Linked DNA regions of Homo sapiens. The protein of the gene in region 6 purifies or fractionates together with the protein of the main gene of each other region. This does not show direct contact. Each region holds a gene or a part of one and is shown on either strand. Other genes may lie near its edges. The genes, in order: PXMP2, GPR89A, RTN3, CHP1, STX12, SLC6A15 and HACD2.

Region 1 (3,500 bases), about 48 Mb from region 6:
AAAATACAAAAATAAGCTGGGTGTGGTAGCGGGCTCCTGTAATCCCAGCTACTCAGGAGGCTGAGGCAGGAGAATCGTTTGAACCCGGGAGGCAGAGGTTGCAGTGAGCTGAAATCGCACCACTGCACTCCAGCCTGGGCAACAGGGCGAGATTCTGCCTCAAAAATAAAAAATAAATAAATAAATAAATAAAATAGGACTACAAAGGAACCAATAATACTGAAATACAGTTATCAAAATATTCAGAAAAAATTTTGACAGACTAATGTGTTTATTTATTTATTTATTTATTTTTGTCTTTTGAACCAGTGTCTTGCTCTGTTACCCAGGCTGGAGTGCAGTGGTGTGATCTCTGCTCACTGCAGCCTCCACATCTTGGGCTCAAGGGATCTTCTCACCTCAGCCTCCCAAACAGCTGGAACTACAGGTGCACATCACCACACTGGCTCATTTTTTACTTTTTGAGAGATGGGTATTCGCCATGTTGCCCAGGCTGGTCCCGAACTCCTGGCCTCAAGCTATCCACTGGCCTTGGCCTCACAAAGTGCTGGGATTACAGGTGTGCACCATCATGCCCGGCCCTGTTTCTTTTTTCTTTTTTCTTTTTTTTTTGAGGCAGAGTCTTGCTCTGTTGCCCAGACTGGAGTGCAGTGGCACAATCTCAGCTCACCACAACCTCCACCTCCCGGCTTCAAGCGATTCTCCTGCCTCAGCCTCCCGAGTAGCTGGGATTACAAGCACGCACCACCATACCTGGCTAATTTGTTTTGTTTTGTTTTTTGTTTTTGAGACGGAGTCTGGCTCTATTACCCAGGCTAGAGTGCAGTGGCGACATCTCGGCTCACGGCAAGCTCCACCTCCCGGGTTCACGCCATTCTCCTGCCTCAGCCTCCCAAGTAGCTGGGACTACAGGCGACTGCCACTGTGCCCAGCTAAATTTTTTGTATTTTTAGTAGAGACGAGGTTTCACCATGTTGGCCAGGCTGGTCTCGAACTCCTGACCTCAGGTGATCCACCCGCCTCGCCCTCCCAAAGTGCTGGGATTACAGGTGTGAGCCACTGTGCCCGGCCTGTTTCTTTCTTTACACAGTGACAAGACCTCTAATGGCAGGTCCAAGTAGTAATGAGCATAAATTATATTTCGAGATATCTGTAACAACTGATGTGATATAAAAATATCTGATTAGCTGGGTGTGGTGGCACGCACATGTGGTCCCAGCTACTTGGGAGGCTGAGGCAAGAGGATCGCTTGAACCCAGGAGTTTGAGGTTTGCAGTGAGCTATGATTGTGCTACTGCACTGCAGCCTGGGTGACAGAGTGAAACCCTGTCTTTAAATAAATAAATAAATAAAGTGACTCTACTGGGTACAAACAGGTCCTGCCAATACTAGATGTTTGCTTCCTATATTCATAAAAGAAAATGCAAAATTTCAATTTGAGTGAAAAATCTGCAGACCCTCTGAATTCTGCCGAGAATGTCAGGTGAAGAATCCCTGTGCTAAACGAAGAGCTGCAGTAAGTGCTGTGGCAGACACCCACCTCCAGAAAGTTCATGATGAGGAAGAACAACATGAGGAAGGCCGGTGCAAAGACGAGGCGGTCCAGGAGAAGCCTCCTGAGCCCTGCCAGGGGGACCTCAGGAGGGATCCAATGTTCCATGAAGAAGTAGAAGAAGTGACTCAGCGGCCCTGTGAAGAAGAACCTGAGGCCCCCAGGGGGTGTGAGCCAGATTGTGGTTCTCTGGATGTGCTCTTCTCTGGTCTAGCTTCACCCCCAAATCCCAGGTCCTAACCCCTGCTTCCTGATGTCCCTCAGTATTGGCCACACAGGTCTGTACAGATAAGTCGGCTTCAGGGGCGCTCTGTCTCTGTTGCTCTAACAGACCAGACTTGCTCCTGCCGTTGACTCTCTGCTCCCAGCGCGTCCCCGCCTAGCTATGTTGGCTCGCTCCTCCTCACACTGTCAGCTTCCAGGTCGTCCCAGCACGTGTGCACGCCTGTGCTAACACTCTTGGCCCTGGTTCATTTTCTGCCTAGCACTGTCCTTATCTCATATGTTAGGTTAGTCTGTGCCTCTCGTCCCCCCTAGAAGGCAGGCTCCACAAGGGAGGCTACGTCTTCTGTCCACTGCAGTGCCCAGAACAGGGCCAGGCTTCGAGAAGCACTCAATAATGAATCATCAGACATGTCCCTGGTTGTGGAGCTTTTCATTAAACTCACTAGGCTAACTGGCAAGGGAACTCACTAGGTTAACTGGCAAGGGCACTCACTAGGCTAACAAACTGGCAAGGGAACTCACTAGGCTAACTAACTGGCAAGGGCACTCACTAGGCTAACTGGCAAGGGCACTCACTAACTGGCAAGGGCACTAACTGGCTAAGGGAGCTCACTAACTAACTGTCAAGGGCGCTCACTAACTAACTGTCAAGGGCGCTCACTAACTAACTGGCTAAGGGAGCTCATTAACTAACTGGCAAGGGAGCTCTCTAACTAACTGGCTAAGGGAGCTCACTAACTAACTGGCAAGGGCACTCACTAACTAACTGGCTAAGGGAGCTCACTAACTAACTGGCTAAGGGAGCTCACTAACTAACTGGCTAAGGGAGCTCACTAACTAACTGGCAAGGGAGCTCACTAACTAACTGGCTAAGGGAGCTCACTAACTGACTGGCAAGGGCGCTCACTAACTGACTGGCAAGGGCGCTCACTAACTAACTGGCTAAGGGAGCTCACTAACTGGCTAAGGGAGCTAACTAACTGGCTAAGGGCGCTCACTAACTAACTGGCAAGGGCGCTCACTAACTAACTGGCAAGGGCACTCACTAACTGACTAAGGGAGCTCACTAACTAACTGGCAAGGGAGCTCACTAACTGGCAAGGGAGCTCACTAACTGGCTAAGGGAGCTCACTAACTAACTGGCTAAGGGAGCTCACTAACTAACTGGCAAGGGAGCTCTCTAACTAGCTAAGGGAGCTCACTAACTGGCTAAGGGAGCTCACTAACTAACTGGCAAGGGCGCTCACTAACTAACTGGCAAGGGCGCTCACTATCTAACTGGCTAAGGGCGCTCACTTAACTAACTGGCAAGGGCGCTCACTAACTAACTGGCTAAGGGAGCTCACTAACTGGCTAAGGGAGCTCACTAACTAACTGGCTAAGGGAGCTCACTAACTGGCAAGGGCGCTCACTAACTAACTGGCAAGGGCGCTCACTAACTGGCAAGGGCGCTCACTAACTGGCAAGGGCGCTCACTAACTAACTGACTAAGGGAGCTCACTAACTAACTGGCAAGGGAGCTCACTAACTAACTGGCAAGGGAGCTCACTAACTGGCTAAGGGAGCTCACTAACTAACTGGCTAAGGGAGCTCACTAACTAACTGGCAAGGGAGCTCTCTAACTAGCTAAGGGAGCTCACTAACTGGCTAAGGGAGCTCACTAACTAACTGGCAAGGGCGCTCACTAACTAACTGGCAAGGGCGCTCACTAACTGGCTAAGGG
Region 2 (3,500 bases), on a different chromosome or scaffold from region 6:
CCTTTAAACATTAACCATTATGTACGAATCTGTCAGTTTTTTGTCAGTATGCATCAGGAATTCTAAGTGCTACCTATGACCCTGTCACTTCATCTTCTTGTCCTCAAAATTCTTCATCCACAGGAGGATGCTGGTAATAGTGACTCAAGATTCAGAAGTGCCACCTATATTGATCTTTTTCTTTAGCTCCAGGCAAGTTGCTGTTGTGGCCCTACTTCCAATGACTTGAGAATTTCCTCAAAATAAGTTTTCTGACTTGTAACCAGAAGGAGGTTATCAGTTCAGTTTTTAAACAAGGAAATAACTTCTAGTCTCTGTTTGGCTTTTAACAGATACGTCAGTATGTTGTACAGGTGATCTTCTCCGTGACGTTTGCATTTTCTTGCACCATGTTTGAGCTCATCATCTTTGAAATCTTAGGAGTATTGAATAGCAGGTGAGTAAGAGTACTGAAAACTCCTCTTGAAGAGTTCTGTGCTACATTCTTTACAGTGGAAAAGCTATTGGATCTCATAACTGAAAAAAAAAACACTGTGTTAATAGTTCAGTTTCAGTAACTGCAATGATCACAACAGATATGGGTCACAGCCACCTAATAGCTGGTTTGATAAAGATTATGAGATACCAGGAAACAAAAGATCTGACCGTTAACTCTGAAGAACTCATTGGAGTGAGGCTGTGAAGCTGCAGTCTAGGCTTCACTCCTAGAAGCTTTATTTTTCCAGGACTGCTCGCTGACTGAATCCCAGTAACAGCCCTTCACATTGTTCTGCTGATTGAAAATCTCTACCTGAAAAGATTAGAATTCCTCAGAGCTACTTTAATGATCTCTCTGAAGACTGAAACTCCAGTTCTTACTTAACTTAGTTATTTTTATTGATTTTACAGTCATGGTCAAGTTTGGTTGAATTTAAAGTGTTTCTTAAAACACTTTTTAAAAATAACTCTTTACTCCCCTCCAAATAATAGACTTGTTAGTTTATTAGACAGTCTATTCAAAATATTTCTTGCTTGTTAATCTGCAAGCTTGAGTATGTTTTTAGGCCAGCATTTATATGTAGGGTTCATCAACTATGCTATGCAGACTTTGTTGTGCTTTTTTATCACCACCTGGAAAAACCTTTTAGGAGTAAAGCAGTCTTTCACTCTAAAGTTAGGATTCAGTGCCAAGGTAAGTTCATTATAGACCCCTGGCACTTGAGACTTGTAGAGAGACTATACTCTCAAATCCTTTGATAATCAGAGTTGAAAACGAAATTTAAATTAAAAAGAAAAACTTACTATACAGATGGTTAATCACAAAACATTGAAAGGTTAAAAAAAAAAAAAGAAGAGAGAGGGGCCAGACATAGTGGCTCACGCCTATAATCCTAGCACTTTGGGAGGCTGAGGCAGGAGGATCACTTAAGTGCAGGGGTTCAAGACGAGCCTGGGCAACAAAGTGAGACCCTGTCTCTACAAAAAAATAAAAAAAATTAGCAGAGTGTGGTAGTACACGTCTGTAGTGCCAGCTACCCTGGAGGCTGAAGCAGGAGGATCCCTTGAGCCCAGGAGTTTGAGGATATGCAGTGAGCTGTGATCACTGGACAAGACAATGAGACCCCATCTCTTAAAAAAAAGAGTGAGAGAGAGAGAATCAGAGTTGATAATAATGGTCTCTTGATAGAACAATGAATAACATGTATTATGGTAAAATAGAAGTGTTTTCTGATTCTCCTGCTTTTAAACTTTAATAATCCAAACCTTGGCCGGGCACGGTGGCTCACGCCTGTAATCCCAGCACTTTGGGAGGCCAAGGCAGGCGGATCACGAGGTCAGGAGATCAAGACCATCCTGGCTAACATGGTGAAACCCCGTCTCTACTAAAAATACAAAAAATTAGCTGGGCGTGGTGGTGGGCGCCTGTAGTCCCAGCTACTTGGGGGGCTGAGGCAGGAGAATGGCCTGAACCCAGGAGGCAGAGCTTGCAGTGAGCCGAGATTGTGCCACTGCACTCCAGCCTGGGCGACAGAGCAAGACTCCATCTCAAAAAAATAAATAAATAAAAAATAATCCAAACCTTTTCTTGGATGAGCTAGATATAGATCCTGTGACTATAGAGAATAGACAGGTATTATTTTACATAATGGTTATTAAATTTTATTATCACAACCTGCATCTTTCACTGCTATTTAAGCAGGGGTTGGCAGGCTTTCTTCTGTAAAGGGCCAGATAATAAATATTTTAGGTTTCTGTGGACCAGAAGGTTTCTATCACAAGTACTCAGCTCTGCTGTTGTAGAGAGAAAACAGTCATAGGCAATATATAAACAAACGAGCATGGCCATGCTCCAATAAACTTAATTTGTAAAAGCAGGTGGCTGTGAGGCCATAGTTTGCCAGCTACTCATCTAAATATTGATACAGAGGATTCAGATATTCTAAAGCTATATTTACTGTTTTTGGTAGATGATGTCCCCCAACTTTTAACTTATAGTTAATAACCCGTATAGTAAGAAACATCTGTCATACTATGGTGTATGTTTCCTAAATTTCTTAATTAGTTAAAGAGGATAAGAAGTAGCATTGCTAAAATCTGGTTTTTCTTTGTGTGCTATATAGAGGATTGGGTCTGAGACATATCTTCAGTTATACCTGTTTTTTCATGCTAATGTTTCACCCAATTATGGAACACAAATATGAACCTTGATGATGTATAACTGTCCATTGACTGGACTCAGAATCGTTTTGAAAAGAGAATCTTGGCCAGAATATTCCTTTGACTCACCTTTGAGCAGAGATCATATGACTTCCTATTCAAATATGTAATCTTGTTGGGATGCTTAGTTTTTTCAAGAGAATATCACTTTACTCTCAGCTCAAAAGACTAGTTAAAACATGTGGTTCACTTTTAATAGGCAGTCCATACTGCCAATTAAAGTTGCACTTGTTATTTCAAACCCACTGCTTCCCAAAATCTTTCAGAAGCTTAGCTGAAATACTATGTAGTATTGCCTGGAGGATGTCCAGCTTGTTTCTTTCTCTAAATGTTCTAAAGTAGTTGTTAACCTAGAGGAGCAAAAAGCTGTCAATGTATCTAGTCTAAATGGTATTCACTCCCTGTAGGGTAGCTTTTACTGAATGGCTCTTTGTTTCGTGATGCCTGCCATCTGTACTAAGGAAGGAACAATAAGAAACAGCCCTCTGAAACATATTTCTCTTGAAAGGATGTTGTTGATGACACTGTTAATTGCCTTTGCATTTTCTTTATGAAATCTTTGAAGAAATTTCATTGTAATCTTGTTAATAATTCAGTAACAATAAATGATAATTATGCTTCCTTTGAGGAATTAATTTTTATTTTCTTACAGACATGATGATTTTATCTAACTGATCAAATTTTTTATTTCACATTGACCATTAGAAAACTTAAAGCTAAATTTATGACCTACCCATAGCAACTTTCTAGAATTCTGTTTTATAATAGCCATCAGGCTTGGCCCAATATTTTACCTGTTACCA
Region 3 (3,500 bases), on a different chromosome or scaffold from region 6:
ATGGTTTGCATCTACCATTATACAGTATGGATATTCAGCATGACTAGATTAGGGCATAACAGAAATGAAGCCCAGTATTGTAGGTTAAAAGGTTCAAAAATCTGAAGTGTGAAGTACTACAGATTACATTTAAATCAGAAATATTCCACAATCTGAGCCATGCATTGTTACTGAACTTACTAGTCAGTGTTTCTACCACAAAACATTCAGTGAACTAAGGTTATGGTAAAACTGTTTGGGAACCTCTCTCTTCAAACAACTCTGAGGTGAGTCAAACTGACTCCACCCCACAGGGGAGGTTCAGCTTATATGTTTTTTTGTGTGTTTTTTGTGTGTTTTTTTTAGACAGAGTCTAGTTCTGTTGCCCAGGCTGGAGTGCAGTGGTGCAATCTCGGCTCACTGCAACCTCCGCCCCCCAGATTGAAGCGATTTTCCTGACTCAGCCTCCGAAGTAGCTGGGATTACAGGCGTGCACCACCGCACCTGGCTAATTTTTTGTATTTTTAGTAGAGAGCTGGTTTCACCACGTTGCGCAGGCTGGTCTCGAACTCCTGAGCTCAAGCAATCTGCTCGCCTCAGCCTCACAAAGTACTAGGATTACAGGCATGAGCCACTGCACCCAGCCAGCTTATATGTTTTATGGAGATGGAGATTTCAGATGATTCAGATCTGTCATCTTACAGATGAAAGTCTACAAAATGAATTAGTAATAATTCAACAGGTATTTATTGAGTGCCTACCACGTGTCAGACACTGTTTTAGAAACTGGGCTTAAAGCAGTGAATAAAACAGAAAAAATTTCTTGCCTTTATGGAGCTTACAACACAGAGGGGAAGGCAGACAATAAGCAAAATCAATAAGCAAAATGATGACAATAATACAGTGGTGACAGTGCCTGATTAAACAAAAAAGAAAGCAACCAAATTGAATGCTAACCAAAGAATATTCATGTCACTGGGAAGAGCATGGTAAAACTGTCTATGCTTTAGCAGGACACAAACTGGTCAGTTTATCAAGCTTTGCTTTTCTCTTAACTTCTTTGAACCTTTAATACTCCAAAAGTTTCAAGTTAGGTGTAGAATAATCTCAGGTAAAACTAAAGTTAGAAGTCCTATTCTCAGAATACTAACACATCCTCTGCTGAGCACCATGATAGCCTGACAGACTTCAAACATTAAGGATTCTCTAGGCTGGGTGTGGTGGCTCATGCCTGTATCTTAGAACTTTGGGAGGCACAGGAGGGAAAATTGCTTGAGTCCAAGAGGTCAAGATCAGCCTGGGCAACATGCTGAGATCCTGCCCCTACAAAAAATAGAAAAATTAGCCGTGCATGGTGGCACGTGCCTGTAGTCCCAGTCACTTGGGAGGCTGGAGTGGGAGGATTGCTTGAGTCTGGGAGGTCAAGGCTGCAGTGAGCCATGGTCATGCCACTGCACTCCAGCTTGGGTGACAGAGTGAGAAAGAGAAAAGAGAAGAGAAGAGAAGAGAAAAGAGAAAAATGAAAAAAAGGAAAAAAGAAAAAAGATTAATATGACATGGCTACGAGATATATTAAAAAAAAACTCTAATAATGTTCCCTAATAAAAATATTATAACTTACTATTTAGGGTATATCTTGTTTTTTCTGGGGACAAGCTTAGAGGGCAAACAGAGCTCAGTGCTGCATTCATTTCTCAGTGATTGTGAGATGCAGGCGCTAATCATTACTATCAATCAAGCTTTCCCACATGTAGAAAAATAAGGTAGCATCATCATCTGTGCTTTAACTTTAATTATTTTGTTTAGAATTTCAGCAAATGAAAATACCATTTTTGGCTAGCTGAAACCCTAACAAACTTGGACACAGCTGACCTGTACCAAGACAATGGGAAAAATTGGGCTGGAAGTAAAAAGTTTATAAAGGCATGAAAACATTAAATAGAATGAAGACCAAAAACTAATAAGCCTTTTAGAACAGCTCCGATAAGCAAAGACTCTTCCAATTGGTCAGTATGGCACTTGTAGTCACTGCTGTTGCCCAAGTCAGTACCTGGCAAAAGGACAGAAAAGTCCAGTGAATCTGAAGGCAGTTAGCTCTTAAAATACTATACACTGTAAAGCTGTCTGGTGGAATAAATCTGGATTATTTTATGTCTCAGAAAATGTCTACTATCTTTCTTTTCTCAAAAGATTCATCCCTTCACATGCACTCTAAGAGCCTTTCAACACTACTCAAAACAAATCGCCATCAAAACTCTCATTATGAACATTTTCTAAATTAGTTCTTTGCTATAATGGAATTTAGTGTGGATATTCATTTTCAAGAGTTCTAATCACTTAAAAACATGGTGCTACTCTAATTATTAACAAATAAAGTCATAGATCTAGTAGATTTACTAAAAAGGGAATCAGCTGAGTGTGGTGGCTCATGCCTGTAATCCTAGCACTTTGAGAAGCCAAGGCAGGGAGACAGCTTGAGCCCAGGAGTTCGAGACCAGCCTGGGCAACACAGTGCGACCCCATCTCTACAAAAAAATTAAACAATTAGCCAGTCATGGTGGCATACACCTGTGGTCCTGACTACTTGGGAGGCTGAAGTGGGAGGACTGCTTGAGCCCAGGAGGTCGAGGCTGCAGTGAGCCATGCACTCCACCCTGGGTGACAAAGCAAGACCTTGTTTCAAAAAATGGGGGGTGGGTGAGAATCGATATATGGTAAGAGGTAAAAAATGTCATATCCCCACAATGATCATGAACATGTTCTCAAACTTATCAAGTACTCAGCTCCATGATTACTCATCTTCTTAAACTCTAAATACTCCACTGAGATATATTATCTGAAACAAAGACTAAGAAATTAAGTTGGTAGTCATATTCTAAATTCTAAATTTTTAGACCCAAATAAAAAATTCTTTTATATTTTTGAGAGATGGAATTTCACTCTTTTTGCCCAGGCTGGAGTGCAATGGTGTGACCTTGGCTCACCGCAACCTCTGCCTCCTGGGTTCAAGCGATTCTCCTGCCTCAGCCTCCGGAGTAGCTGGGATTACAGGCATGCGCCACCAGGCCTAGCTAATTTTGTATTTTTAGTAGAGACGGAGTTTCTCCACGTTGGTTAGGCTGGTCTGGAACTCCCAACCTCAGGTGATTCGCCTGCCTCGGCCTCTCCAAGTGCTGGGATTACAAGTGTGAGCCATTGCGCCCGGCCAAAAAATTCTTATTAAAAAATTCGAAGTCGGCCAGGCACGGTGGCTCACGCCTGTAATCCCAGCACTTTGGGGGCCGAGCTGGTCCTGATCACGAGGTCAGGAGTTCAAGACCAGCCGGATCAACATGGAGAACCCCATCTCTACTAAAAATACAAAAAAATTAGCCGAGTGTGGTGGCGCATGCCTATAATCCCAGCTACTCGGGAGACTGAGGCAGGAGAATCGCTTGAACCCAGGAGGTGGAAATTGCGGTGAGCCAAGATCACACCACTGCACTCTAGCCCAGGCAACAATGTGAGACTCCATCTCAAAA
Region 4 (3,060 bases), on a different chromosome or scaffold from region 6:
TCCCCCAGGTTTTGGAGAAGGTGGATGTAGAACAGAAAATGAGCATCCGATTTCTTCACTAAAGGAGACCAAACTGTTCCTTGCGGTCTAGTATTTAAGAACTGGAACTTGAAAGTCCTCCTTCTACCAACTCCACCTCCACCCCCTCATTCCCCTTCTCCCAAAGTACTACTGCTGTTGCATGACAACCCCAAATATGTTCTGTCAACACAAACCTGCCTTTGGTGTATAAACAGGGCATTACAGAATGGTACACCCTATATATTTCTGTTCAGTATCCATTCACTAGTTCTTCATTTATAAATATCATCTTCCCCATTCTGCTGCTGAATGCCACACATCCATCCAGTCTGAGAAAGTGAGAGAGGCAATCATGCCAAGAACAAGCCAGCAAAGCTCTTTCACCAGATGTAGACTGTAGCCCTGCTGCCTTCCCTCCAGCGAGTCTGCCAGCATGCTTCTTCATCCTTTTTATATGTTCTTTGCTTCCTACTTCCCTGTCTTCCAACATACTGTTCACTTACTCTGGCAGTCTTTCTGCTTTTCATTAAGCCTCAAAATCTCCTCTGTTCTACTTGGCACCACAAGCTATGTCCTATATATGTATTTCTGACTTGGCAGGATAGTTCAGGGGTCTGGCAGTTTTTATTTACCTTCATTATTAAATGGGCCTCTGGGATGTTGCCTCTTCAGGAGCTTTTTGGTAATCAATACTTCTCTCAGAAGTATGAGACCATCCTCTGCACTCTGCTCTGTCATCAAAGGCTGCTGGGTGGAGATACCCTTTTTGAAAGGTGGCCTTGGTGAGAGGTATGGAGCCAAGTCTTCTAGGTTGCTTGCCCACATCACTCTATCTCTGGCCTCTGATTCTCAACTTTGTACCTGTGTGGCTCCTCTTGTTAGTGCAATGTTGACTGTTGAAAAAGCAGCAGTATGCTTACAGGTTTGCTTAGTTTGGGGACACCGTTACCACCAGAATGGCTGCTCTGACAATATGCCTAGGGACTTTCTCATGGCTTTTATTTAATAAGGAGGCTGGGCACCCTATAAAGCCTCATGCATTCACACCTTTGCAGCATGGTTTATGCCTCAGTGTTATGTGCACTGGAATGTTTTCCACTTCACATTTCCAAGTAGAAATATTAGTGTTACGGAAGTGCCTAATATCCCAGTCCAAATTTTTTTTTTTTTTTTTTTTTTTTTTTGAGACAGAGTCTTGCTCTGTCACCCAGGCTGGAGTGCAGTGGTGCGATCGCTCACTGCAACCTCAGCCTCCTGGATTTAAGTGATTCTCCTGCCTCAGCCTCCCAAGTAGCTGGGATTACAGGTGTGCACCACCATGCCCGGCTAATTTTTTGTATTTTTAGTGGAGACAGGGTTTCACCATGTTGGCCAGGCTGGTCTCGAACTCCTGACCTCGTGATCCGCCTGCCTCAGCCTCCCAAAGTGCTGGGATTACAGGTGTGAGCCACCACGCCTGGCCCCAGTCCAAAATATTTAAAGATTGTTTCCTTAGTGTCTTGAAGTTTTGCACAAAATTCTTTTTTTTGAGATGGAGTCTCACTCTGTCACCCAGGCTGGAGTGCAGTGGCGTGATCTTGGCTCACTGCAACCTCTGCCTCCTGGGTTCAAGCAATTCTCCCACCTCAGCCTCCCAAGTAGCTGGGATTACAGACGTGTGCCACCATACCTGGGTAATTTTTGCATTTTTAGTGGAGAGGGAGTTTCACCATGTTGGCCAGGTTGGTCTTGAACTCCTGACCTCAGGTGATCCTCCTGCCTCGGCCTCCCAAAGTGCTGGGATTACAGGCATGAGCCACCGTGCTCAGCCGCAAAATTCTTTATGAATTTTACACTTGGCAAATGTTAATGACGGAAGCCATAGTCTGCTCCTAATACATGTCCAAAGCATTGACTGTTGTGTCATTAGCTGCCTGGTTACATTAGCTCCCTGGCTTCTTGTTTAGACCACTGCTAATCCCTTAAAAACAAGAGGTCTGGCACTAGTAGCACAACCTAAGGTGGCATTACAGATCTTTGAGCGAGCCACAGCAACTTTTCTGCCAAGTCAGCTTAGTTTAGACTTCAGTGAATCAGGCTATTGCTATCCTAATGTATGTCTCTATGAGTGTATTTAGCCACACATCTGCCCTTGGTTGACTTTCTGACTCATTGCTTGCTTGCTTGTTTCCTTGCTTTGGAAAACTATTGAAGATTGCTAAAAAATACCACTGCAAAGTGATGGAAAAGGGTGGAGAACAGGGGAGTAGCCAGGCTGGATGGCTCAAATATAAATGAATGAGGAATTCTTTATGAAGTATCAGTCAGATTTTATGATTAAGTGATGTAATATAGGAATTATGTAAAAGGGAAGAATGTCTGATACTGATCTATTAGAGAGGTACTTTAGAGGCTTCTTGATTGGCATAAAGTTCCTAAGGTTATAGATTTTCCCCCCTTTTGGCTGTATAGCAAAGTGTTTTAATCCACGGTTGTGCCTTATTGTTCCATTAAAATTGTATCTTCGATCCATCAATAAATACTTGTGGTTGAAACAAAATAACTTTTGTCCATTTTACAAGAATTTTATGTAACTTAGTCCCTTCAAGTTTGAAATCACAGTGTCTCCCTTACTCAAGTTTATGTCTGTACGGTCAGCTGCAGTCTACTCTGCTGCTGCCTGGATATATGAAGTGGAAACATTCATCGAGGGGCCAGCACTTTTGGCTTCGACATGGTTTTGTCAGCCGTGGCCACTTCCCATTCATTCCAGCTAAGACGCAATTTCTATTCTTGACTCCCTGACTCCTTAAATGTAGAAAAAGCCTAAAAATCCAGTATATGTCCATTCCTTAAATTGCCCACCTCCTCATTCATGTGCAGCCTCAGCGGTGACATACTCTGGTTTTACATGGCTTTTTCTTTGCATTTCTTTTTTGAGATGGAGTCTCACTCTTGCCCAGGCTGGAGTGTAATGGCACAGTCTTGGCTCACTGCAACCTCCGCCTCCCAGGTTCAAGCAATTCTCCTGCCTCAGCCTCCTGAGTAGCTGGGATTACA
Region 5 (3,500 bases), on a different chromosome or scaffold from region 6:
TGAGGCAGGAGAATCTCTTGAACCCGGGGGGCGGAGTGAAGTAAGCGCCACTTCACTCCGGCCTGGATGAAAGAGCGAAACTCCGTCTCAAAAAAAAAAAAAAAAGCCAGGCATGGTGGCTCAAGCCTGTAATCACAGCACTTTGGCAGGTTGAGGCAGGAGGATAGCTTAAAGCCAGGAGTTTGAGACCAGCCTGGGCAACAAAGCAAGACCCCCATTTCTAAAAAGAATTTTTTAAAAAGTGTTATAACATTTCACTAGCTTTCTGTTAAGAGGGTTTTTTATGGATTGTTTTTTAATAGAGATGAGGGTTTTGCTATGTTAGCCAGGTTGGTCTTGAACTCCTGGCCTCAAGCAGTCCTCCTGCCTCGGCCTCCCAAAGTGCTAGGATTACAGGCATGAGCCACCGCGCCTGGCCTGTTAAGAGGTATTTAACCCAAAGCATAACCCCAAGGAAATTTTGGAAAACTAGGAGATGTGATTCTGTTGAACTAACTGGCAAAGCACTGATAGGTCACTTAGCTTGCTCTTCTCCACCCACTTAGTACTGAAGGTACTAATGCAGCTTGCACTTTGAGAGTGCCCTGGAAGATGATGGTGCAACATAATTCAATGAGTTCAAATCTCTGGCTACTTTCCTTGTCTGGCAAGCCCCAGTGAGATTACAGAGTATACCCCTAAATGGAAACAGCCAGGAGTCCCATCCGTCATAATTCTGCCACATGTCAGCTTTGCCCATGGAAGCTGAGTCTTTGTTTTCCTGATATCATCAGCTCTTTGCTTCTGGATATGAAGAATGTGGCCCTCCAAGACTTTATTGATAGCAGAGGACTGGAGCCCTGGTAATGTCTTTGCATAGGTTCTGCTGGCAGTAGAGATGTTGGAGATATGTCTTGTTATGCCTTTGAGAGGAGAAATCACCTAGTGTGCCTGTTTCCCTGCAGCCATGAGGAGTGGAACCAGATGCAGAGCCAGGAGGATGAGGTGGCCATCACTGAGCAGGATTTGGAACTTATTAAAGAAAGAGAAACGGCAATTCGGCAGCTGGAGGTGAGAGCCACGTCATGTTTTTTGTTTGACTCAGTGTGTCTGCAGGTATCTGAACTCCTTAGTTCACTTTAATTCTCTTAGTGATTATGAAAAGGCATAAAATGTGTCATTGTGTGATTTGTATTTTTTCTGTCTCAGTGTAATCATGGTGGGTTTGAACTACCGGTTTTTTTTGTTTTTTTTTTTATCTTGGATGGAATTTCGCTCTTGTTGCCCAGGCTGGAGTGCAGTGGTGTGATCTTGGCTCACTGCAACCTCTGCCTCCTGGGTTCGAGCGATTCTCCTGCCTCAGACTCTCGAGTAGCTGGGATTACAGGCATGTGCCACCACGCCCAGCTAATTTTGTATTTTTAGTAGAGACGGGGTTTCTCCATGTTGGTCAGGCTGGTCTTGAACTCACGACCTCAGGTGATCCACCCTCATCGGCCTCCCAAAGTGCTGGGATTACAGGCGTGAGTCACCGCTCCTGGCATGAACTACTGTTATAATGGCATTGGCCTTGGTGCCCAGGAGTACTCAAATCCTTTCCTCAATCACCACATCTTATACGGATCACCACATCTTATTTCTCCTGGAGAAATGTACATGGAGAACAGAACAAGGCAGACAGATATTTTATTGCTCATTAGAACTTTGACCTCAAATCTCAATGCCAACCTCCGGGTTAGGCAGGACTCCATGGAGAGCCCCTTTGCTTAGTCTGAAGAGCCCAGAATAAAGGCAGGCCAAAAGTCTTGCTCCATTTTTGTATATCCTAAAGTCTAATCCCAAGTTGTACATCTTATCCCTTCAGTGAGTCAGAGAAATAGGAACAGTTTTTGAGGTGGAGGTTGAGGGAGAAGTCTGTAGGCCTTTCTTACCTAACTGAGCTTTCAACTTTAATTTTGCACAGTGACTAATAAAATATCCTTTTTTTTTTTTTTCCGAGACTAAGTCTTGCTCTGTCGCCCAGGCAGGAGTGCAATGACACTATCTCAGCTTACTGCAGCCTCCCTCTCCTGGGTTCAAGTGATTCTCCTGCCTCAGCCTCCTGAATAGCCGAGACTACCAGTACGCACCACCACACTCGGCTAATTTTTGTATTTTTAGTAGAGACAGGGTTTTGCCATTTTGGCCAGGCTGGTCTTGAACTTCTGACCTCAAGTGATCTGCCTGCTTCAGCCTCCCAAAGTGCTGGGATTACTGGCATGAACCACTGTGCCCAGCTAAAATATCCTTAAACCTGAGTTTTCTCCAGTTTAGTTTTCTCCGAAGGTAGAAGGCTGCCATTGCTGGGATCAGGGGAGGAGAAAAGGAGAGAGGGAAATTTTGAGCTCTTCCTTGGCCTCCATCTGTAGCAGTGGTTCTGAACTGTGAGTGCACATGAGGATCACCTGGAGAAGATTTTTTTTTAATGCCCCAGCTCTCATCCACCACTAATTACCTGATGGGATAATGTGAAATTCCTGTTTATTATATGTTAAAAATGGGCAAATATCCATTATTTTATATGGTTCAAACTAATAAATCATAATTTCTGGGCGTGAGGCCCTGGGCATGGGTATTTTTTTAAAAAGTTCCCCCAGGTGATTATAATATGCAGCCAGGGTTGAGACCCACTGCCCTAAAGGCCATCAATGTCTGTTTTTATCTATTTATTATTTATTTTTTGAGTCAGAGTCTTACTCTGTCACCCAGGCAGGAGTGCAGTGGCGCGTTCTTGGCTCACTGCAACCTCCACTTCCTGGGTTCAAGCGATTCTCCTGCCTCAGCCTCCTGAGTAGCAAAGATTATAGGTGCCCGCCACCACTCCTGGCTAATTTTTGTATTTTTAGTAGAGACGAGGTTTTGCCATTTTGGCCAGGCTGGTCTTGTCTGTTTTTAGATGGGATAGTTTATCCTTAAGTTATGATTATTTTATTGCCTTCAAAAATGTCATATCTTTACTCTTTTTCACCTACTGCTACTACTAATTGAATTAATTGTCTAACATTAGAAATATGGCTAAGTGCAATGGCTCATGCCTGTAATCCCGGCAAGTTGGAGGCTGAGGCAGGATGATTGCTTGAGCCCAGGAATTCAAGACAGCCTGGGCAGTGTAGCAAGACCTTACCTCTACAAAAAATAAAAAATTAACCGGGTGCTGTAACATGTACCTGTGGTCCCAGCTACTCAGGAGCCTGAGGCAGAAGATCACTTGAGCCCAGGAGATCAAGGCTGCAGTGAGCCATGATCGTGCCACTGCAATCCAGCCTGGGCAACAGAGCAAGACTCTGTCTCAAATAATAATAATAATCCTTCCTTCAAAGAAAAATTACTAGCCGGGCGCGGTGGCTCATGCCTGTAATCCCAGCACTTTGGGAGGCTGAGGCGAGTGGCTCACCTGAGGTCTGGAGTTCAAGACCAGCCTGACCAACATGGTAAAACCCCGTGTCTACTAAAAACACAAAAAATTAGCCGGGTGTGGTGGT
Region 6 (3,500 bases):
GAGCAAAGTCTGTTATAATGATAATTTTGAATGATGTTTCTACATTATTTTAAAAAGAAAAAAATCTTGAAAGCTTGTACCTTTGCCACTCTTATAATGCTTAAATACCAAAACACTGTATTATACATATCTTACAAGTGTGTGAAGCATTTTTCACCAAAGGACACTGATCCCAAGGCAGGGGTTGCTGAAAAGACTGAGAAAAATAAAACAAACTCCAGCCAATGATGACGTTGTAGTAGAGAGCTACAAAATAGCACACCTGCAAAATAAAATGATATCCCATTAAACCTCTCATACCTCTTCCATTAAAAGAATGAGATCAAATGCATAAAATTTTATTTAACATTTTAAAATCCTCTTCATTTTATTATTTATTTGGGACACATTATCTTTTCTAAAAAGTTAATGTCTTTCTCAGGACTTAGAACAGGCATTAACAACATTGAGCTATATTAATATTTATAGTTAATCCATATGCCAGTAACGTTTTCTAAAACATAGTAAAAGAGTTGTTTATTAACACACACTCCAAAGTTTCATTTAAATGTTAATTATATAATTTGAAACCCTATAAAGATTACAGCATACACCAACAAAAGGAAACTTACTACACAACTTGCAAATCCAATCCCGCCCAGTTTAGGGCTTATGTAATTCCATACACCAATGCTGCCTCGCCGAATTCTTTGACCCACAGAGAGTTCCAAGAAAAAAAGGGGAATACCTATTACCATAAGTAGTATTAAATATGGTAAAAGATATGCACCTAAAGAAACAACAACAAAAAATAGATTATATTTTCAATACAGTAGAAAATACACTAGTTCAGTTTATCCCATTAAAGATAATATTTGAATTACTATATAGTGCAATTATGGAGAGCTCTGAAGAAGACACAATTTCATTACTTTGCACTTTCTAGATTCTGAAACTTGAATTTGATTTCTACAAAGAGTTTCTGATAATAAAATAATTAGGATAAAATTAAGAATATTAATGAATAGCTTTAGCTTAAATTTATTTAAAGAGTAAAACAGTTTCATTTTCCATAAAAATAATTGATTATTTAAAATTCATTCTTTTCTGGGGCAGGTTTCACAAACTCCTAGAAATCTTATTCACACAATGTTTATGAACTCATTTATTAAAATTTATACAAACTCATTGAAATAATGCATTCTAAATCAGAAAAATTAGAGTGAATGAGATTTTATGGCATTAACGTTGACTTTTTTTTCCAAATAAAATAACATCATGGAAGAAGAAACGTCTGCTTAGACTGAAAAAGAAAAAAAAAAAACAGCAACATAACTTCTACCAGAGACAAATGTCATTTTTCCCATAAATACTACATAAAAGAAGTACACAAATAGATTTTGTTTTCCAAAATTATCAGAAAAGGTAGTGAGAGTCATTAAGAAATTAAAACATTTAATATCTATTGTAAAAATGTATATGTTATTATCCTTGTAATAAAATTTCCATATTTTAAAAAGTATTTTTTAGTTAAATCACAAATTAAGACATATGACTATGACTAGTGATTTCAAAAGGTACCTAAATAGTTTGACAATGTTAATACAAGATTCTATTAACTGAATTATAAAAAGATGAATGTGAAACCTTTACTCATTTCTTTGTGTCTTTCTTTCCTTTTGGAGACAGGCTCTCACTCTGTCACCCAGGCTGAAGTACAGTGGTGTGATCACTGTTCACTGCATTCTCAAACTACCCAGCTCAAGGGATCTTCCCACCTCAGCCTGTGGAGGTCGTTCCTACATGAGGCTACATGTGCAAATTATTATTAAATGACCTCTTAGCTAAACTTCTTACATTCAATTTTTTAATCTGCAGTTTTGTCCAACTAGATACTGTTAAATGTAATGGTCTTACAATCAATGGTAACTAATTCCTATTTTCTATAAAGAGCCTTTTATTATACATTTCCTACATATTTATCATATGTTTAATGGCACTGAATAGATTTTTGAAGCTATTCGAATCGTCTTAATGGAATATTTAGTGGAACACAAATACATAGTGAGTAACTGTATTCAGCTGAAGCAGTGAAATAATGGATTTTTTCAAATTATTTATCTCAGCATCTGTTTATCTCTGTAATAATGATTATATCCAGGCATTTCCCTACATAGTGGTTGCTACATAATCTGAACCTTTCTATGACTGATTTTCAGTCTTTCATTCTTAGTTGATTCTAACAAAACTACATATACAATGTAAAAATTGGATGCATGAGCTTAGAAAACAAAATTCTAATTCTAAAATGATTAGTAACATTCAGGAACTGCTGACCTGAATGTTTTTCCCAAAGACTGAAAGTGAATTTTAACATCTGCATCAAATCTTAGATTATGAATGGATTTTTTATACGCATGTGAATGAGTAAGAAAAAAGAGAGAGAGAAAGAATTATGACTGAACTCATTAGGGATTTTTTTCCAGTCATGTGTGGGTGACATGCTGTTGGATACTTAGACTTTTCTTCTATCTCAAATTCTTCTATAGAAAACAGTATGAAGAACCCTTAAAGAACTGAAAGTAGATCTACATTCAATCCAGCAAGCCCACTCCTAGATATCTACCCAAAGGAAGAAAAGTTATTATATGAAAAAGATACTTGAGGCTGGGCACGGTGGCTCATGCCTGTAATCTCAGCACTTTGGGAGGCCGAGGCTGGCAGATCGCTTGAGTTCAGGAGTTCGAGACCAGCTTGGGCAACATGGTGAGACGCCCCCCGTCTCTACTAAAAAAATAAAATAAAATACAAAAAACAAAGGAAAAAAAAAAACAGCTGAGCGTGGGCTGCGCGCCTGTGGTCCCAGCTACTCGGAAGGCTGAGGTGGGAAGACTGACTCTTGAGTCCAGAGATGGGGAGAGGTTGCAGTGAGCTGAGATCGCACCACTGCACTCCAGTCTCGGTGACAGAGTGAGACCTTGTCGAAAAAAAAAAAAAAGCCAAAAACAAAAACAAAAAAAAGACACTTACATGCATATGTTTACAGCAGTACAATTCACAATTGCAAAGATGTGGAACCAGCCTAAGTGCCCATCGACTAATGAGTGGATAAAGAAAAGGTGATATTATGCACCACAGAATACTACTCAGCCATAAAAAGGAACAAAATAATGCCCTTCATATTAAATTGAATGGAGCTGGAGGCCATTATTCTAAGTGAAATAACTTAGGAGTAGAAAACCAAAAACTTTATGTTCTCATTTATAAGTAGGAGTTAGGCTGTAAGTATGCAAAGGCATACAGTATGATGTAATGCACTTTAGAGATTCAGAAGGGGAAAATTGGGATGGGGGATACGGTTAAAAAACTACATATTATGTACAATGTATGCTACTTGGGTGAGGGGTACATTAAAATCTCTGAATTCACCACTATATAATTCATTTATGTAACAAAAATCCACTTCTACTCCAAAATCTATTGAAATAATTTTTCTTTTAAGCGTGGCACGTTGGCATGCT
Region 7 (3,500 bases), on a different chromosome or scaffold from region 6:
AAGGTCTCGCTATGTTGTGCAGGATGGTCTAGAACTCCTGGACTCAAGCAATTCTCCTGCTTCAGCCTCCCAGAGTGTTGGGATTACAGGCGTGAGCCACTGTTTCTGGCCATTTATTTTTTTAGTAACAGCTTTGTTAAGATATAACTAACTGCCAGGTGTGGTGGCTCACACCTGTAATCCCAGCACTTTGGGAAGCCGAGGCAGGCGGATCAGCTGAGGTCAGGAGTTCAAGACCAGCCTGGCCAATATGGTGAAGCCCTATCTCTACCAAAAGTACAAAAACTTAGCCAGCGATGGTGGCACATGCCTGTAGTCCCAGCTACTTGGGAGGCTGAGGCACAAGAATCACTTGAACCTGGGAGGTGGAGGTTGCAGTGAGCTGAGATTGCACCACTACACTCCAGCCTGGGTGACAGAGTGAGACTCGGTCTCAAAAAATAAATAAAGAAAATAATCAAAGATGATTCCAGTGTTATAACTTGAGGACATTGGGAGGATAATTGTGCCAGGGCTTGTAATGAACAAGGTGATAAAAAAAAAAAAAGGTTTTAAAGATAGTCTTTTATGTTGTTATGCTTGTTGGCAAAATATTCAAGTAGATAATAAAAGATACCTAACTTAACCATTAGATAGTGTATCAAGTCTGATGTCCATGAGCTTCCAGCACTCATTAGACACAAATAGGATTGATTTCTCATCCTTTGTTTCCTATTTGTTTTGAAACCCGTATTGTAAAATGAGTCTTATTTTAAAGATTAGGTAGTGGTTTTGCTTTCTCCATCTATACAGTAAGTGTAAAAAATACTGTACTTGGTCAGTGGTTTTGAGAGGTTTAAGAAAGGTACCTGGATCCCATGGTTTTATAATACCATTAAAAATATTATTGTTTTTAGGGAGAAAACTTTGTTTTAATGTGGACTACATTGAAAACTTAGTCTGTGTAACAATATAGACACCTTTCAGTTGCTCAAGACCGTTTTGACTCTAAACATTTAAGTTGGAATGTTTTAGAAAATATATTATATATCGAAACTTAGTACAGTACATTTATTTATCCATCCCAAAATTTCTTTCAGGAATTGTTCCATCTTCTGTTGTCCTGACTTCTTTCCAGGTGATGTCAAGAGTTTTTCTAATATGGGCAGTAACACATAGCGTCAAAGAGGTAAGTGTTTATATAGACCAAAATAATGTCAACACTAACAAACACTAGTCAACTTTTCTGATTCACATGTTTGTTATGGCTAAAGAGTTCCAGGTCAGAGTTCCAGGTCATGTCAATATAGCTGAGATAAAGCTCACATTCACTGTAGGAACTGGGTTAATAGTGGGAAACATATCCCAGATATGCAGTGTTGTTAAAAAGAAGACTGATTAAATGGTAAAGTCCTGTAATCTGAGTTCTCATGGAGGTTCAGATGGTGTGGATGTGGTCTGCAACTCAGTTATATTTTTCTGATATCTTGTTCGTATCATGTTGCCCAGGCCGCTCTCGAACTCCTGAGCTCAAGCAATCTGCCTGCCTCACTCTCCCCAAATTCTAGGATTTCAGGCATGAGCCACCACACCTGACCCAAGTCATCATTTTAAACCTATACAGTAGTTCCCTCTTATCCAAGGGGAATACATTCCAAAACCCCCACTGGATACCAGAAACAGCGGCTAGCACACAACCCGATTGCTGCTGACCGAAACACGTTTCTGTTTATGCCTTCTACCCGCAAATGTAATGCCTTTTACATATTTACTAAGCATTTATCATGCCCTGTGGCCGCAACTTTTGCAGTTTGAGGTTCACCAGCAAAACAAGCACAAATTTCTTTTTCCTTCACAATTTCACAAATATAAGATTTGTTCCTACTGTAGGACTTAGCAACTTTAGCATACAGTTTGTTTTGTTTCGTTATTAAGCTGAGAACTTTTACTGTCTCGCTTCAAGGAAGTTCTTTATGGCTCCTCTTTGGCATATCTGAATTGCCAGCATCACTACTCTTGCATTTTGGGGCTGTTTTTAAATAAAATAAGGGTTACTTGAACACAAGCACTGATAACCAAGTTAGCTACTAAGTGATTAATGGGCCAGTAGCATATACAGTATGGATACACTGGACAAAGGGAAGATTCGTGTCCTAGGTGGGATAGAGTGGGACAGCATGAGATTTCATCATGCTGCTGAGAACAGTGTACAACTTAAGAATTAGGAATTGTTTCTTTCAGGAATTTTCCATTTAATATTTTTGGACTGTGGTTGACCAGGTGTAACAGAAGCTACGGAAAGTGAAACTTCAGATAAGCAAGGACTGCGATATTTCTTCCTCTCATACTTTTGTGTAGATACCATTTCCTTTTCATTTTAACCAACAACTCATAATTTTATCTTCCAATAGTCTCCAATGACCTAAAACTTCTTCCTAGTAGTAACTCATTTACATTCTTAAATAGATAATTAATGTACTTTCAGTAATTAAGTGCTAGGTACATGAAGTCAAAGTATTGTTCACTATGAAATATCCAATCACTTTGCCAATATAGTCAAATATTAATTGTCCAGGTGCTAATCCACCAGTTGATAGATTCTTCATGGGCTCTGCTTCCTCCCTTCCACTTAGTGACCACTCCTCAGCTATGAGCACATCTGCCAAAGCAGGTAGACAGGTACGTCAAAAATGCTTTACAACTCAAATCAGGCAATTCTATTAGTCAAGTTGCTGTTAGCAACATTTGCCAGGATTTCCTGTGTAGATCATTGAAACTGGTTGGCTTGCAAAGCTATTAAATGTCTCTGTGGATTATAGGTACATGGACTTGGTGTCATCCTCCATAACCATGCTGCCTGCCAGATGCAAAGGACTTAACATATAACAGACGGTTTCACATACATTATCACATTTGAGCTTTACAGTAATTTGTTATATACTCATTACATTTCCATATTCAAAATTGTTTCTCTACAACCAGAGTGACTCAATTTCTGCTAACATTAACATATCATTTTCTTTACCTGCCAAAAAAAAAAAGGAAAAGAAAAAGAAAAGGCATATCATTTTCTGAAGTATGTAGTACATTCTTCAGTATATTTTATTGTCTTCCCATCGCCTCTTGGATCCTCTTGTTTTTACATATGCACTGTTGATGAATTGACTTACTCTTTTCACTTGTAATTGGACTTCAGCGTTTCTGCTGTCCTAGGATCATGGTTCTTTTCTCCTCATTCTCTTTTTCTCTGCACAGAACTCCTCATTCATCGTTTTGTTTAGAGCAGTAGGTGCCCTCCATCCCTGCCCTACGTCTTCGACAGCTAACTTGAAAAGCCTGTTGCTGTGGCCCCTCAGAGGCCAGTACTTGCTATATGTCACCTTGAAAAGCCTGTTGCTGTGGCCCCTCAGAGGCCAGTGCTTACTATCTGTCACCTTGAAAAGGCTGTTGCTGTGGCCCCTCAGAGGCCAGTGCTTGCTATATGTCACCTTGAAAAGGCTGTTGCTGTGGCCCCTCAGAGG

The links.
Region 1: the proteins of SLC6A15 (region 6) and PXMP2 purify together in Homo sapiens (affinity purification with mass spectrometry; 2 studies listed by BioGRID and IntAct, with this or other methods). This does not show direct contact.
Region 2: the proteins of SLC6A15 (region 6) and GPR89A purify together in Homo sapiens (affinity purification with mass spectrometry, with the first as the bait; 2 studies listed by BioGRID). This does not show direct contact.
Region 3: the proteins of SLC6A15 (region 6) and RTN3 purify together in Homo sapiens (affinity purification with mass spectrometry; one large-scale study listed by BioGRID and IntAct). This does not show direct contact.
Region 4: the proteins of SLC6A15 (region 6) and CHP1 purify together in Homo sapiens (affinity purification with mass spectrometry; one large-scale study listed by BioGRID and IntAct). This does not show direct contact.
Region 5: the proteins of SLC6A15 (region 6) and STX12 purify together in Homo sapiens (affinity purification with mass spectrometry; one large-scale study listed by BioGRID and IntAct). This does not show direct contact.
Region 7: the proteins of SLC6A15 (region 6) and HACD2 purify together in Homo sapiens (affinity purification with mass spectrometry; 2 studies listed by BioGRID and IntAct, with this or other methods). This does not show direct contact.

The regions. Positions count from the first base shown.
Region 1 is NC_000012.12:132,694,087-132,697,586, reverse strand, and holds part of PXMP2 (peroxisomal membrane protein 2), read right to left. Parts: intron 1,704-3,500; coding exon 1,541-1,703; intron 1-1,540. UniProt on the Homo sapiens protein: Seems to be involved in pore-forming activity and may contribute to the unspecific permeability of the peroxisomal membrane.
Region 2 is NC_000001.11:145,617,988-145,621,487, forward strand, and holds part of GPR89A (Golgi pH regulator A), read left to right. Parts: intron 1-332; coding exon 333-436; intron 437-3,500. UniProt on the Homo sapiens protein: Voltage-gated channel that enables the transfer of anions such as iodide, chloride, bromide and fluoride which may function in counter-ion conductance and participates in Golgi acidification.
Region 3 is NC_000011.10:63,712,500-63,715,999, reverse strand, and holds part of RTN3 (reticulon-3), read right to left. Parts: intron 1-3,500. UniProt on the Homo sapiens protein: May be involved in membrane trafficking in the early secretory pathway. Inhibits BACE1 activity and amyloid precursor protein processing. May induce caspase-8 cascade and apoptosis.
Region 4 is NC_000015.10:41,279,328-41,282,387, forward strand, and holds the end of CHP1 (calcineurin B homologous protein 1), read left to right. Parts: intron 1-8; coding exon 9-62; 3' UTR 63-2,560; downstream 2,561-3,060. UniProt on the Homo sapiens protein: Calcium-binding protein involved in different processes such as regulation of vesicular trafficking, plasma membrane Na(+)/H(+) exchanger and gene transcription. Involved in the constitutive exocytic membrane traffic.
Region 5 is NC_000001.11:27,811,219-27,814,718, forward strand, and holds part of STX12 (syntaxin-12), read left to right. Parts: intron 1-944; coding exon 945-1,050; intron 1,051-3,500. UniProt on the Homo sapiens protein: SNARE promoting fusion of transport vesicles with target membranes. Together with SNARE STX6, promotes movement of vesicles from endosomes to the cell membrane, and may therefore function in the endocytic recycling pathway.
Region 6 is NC_000012.12:84,885,300-84,888,799, forward strand, and holds part of SLC6A15 (sodium-dependent neutral amino acid transporter B(0)AT2), read right to left. Parts: intron 770-3,500; coding exon 612-769; intron 263-611; coding exon 136-262; intron 1-135.
Region 7 is NC_000003.12:123,526,054-123,529,553, reverse strand, and holds part of HACD2 (very-long-chain (3R)-3-hydroxyacyl-CoA dehydratase 2), read left to right. Parts: intron 1-1,079; coding exon 1,080-1,168; intron 1,169-3,500. UniProt on the Homo sapiens protein: Catalyzes the third of the very long-chain fatty acids (VLCFA) elongation four-step cycle (condensation, reduction, dehydration, and reduction).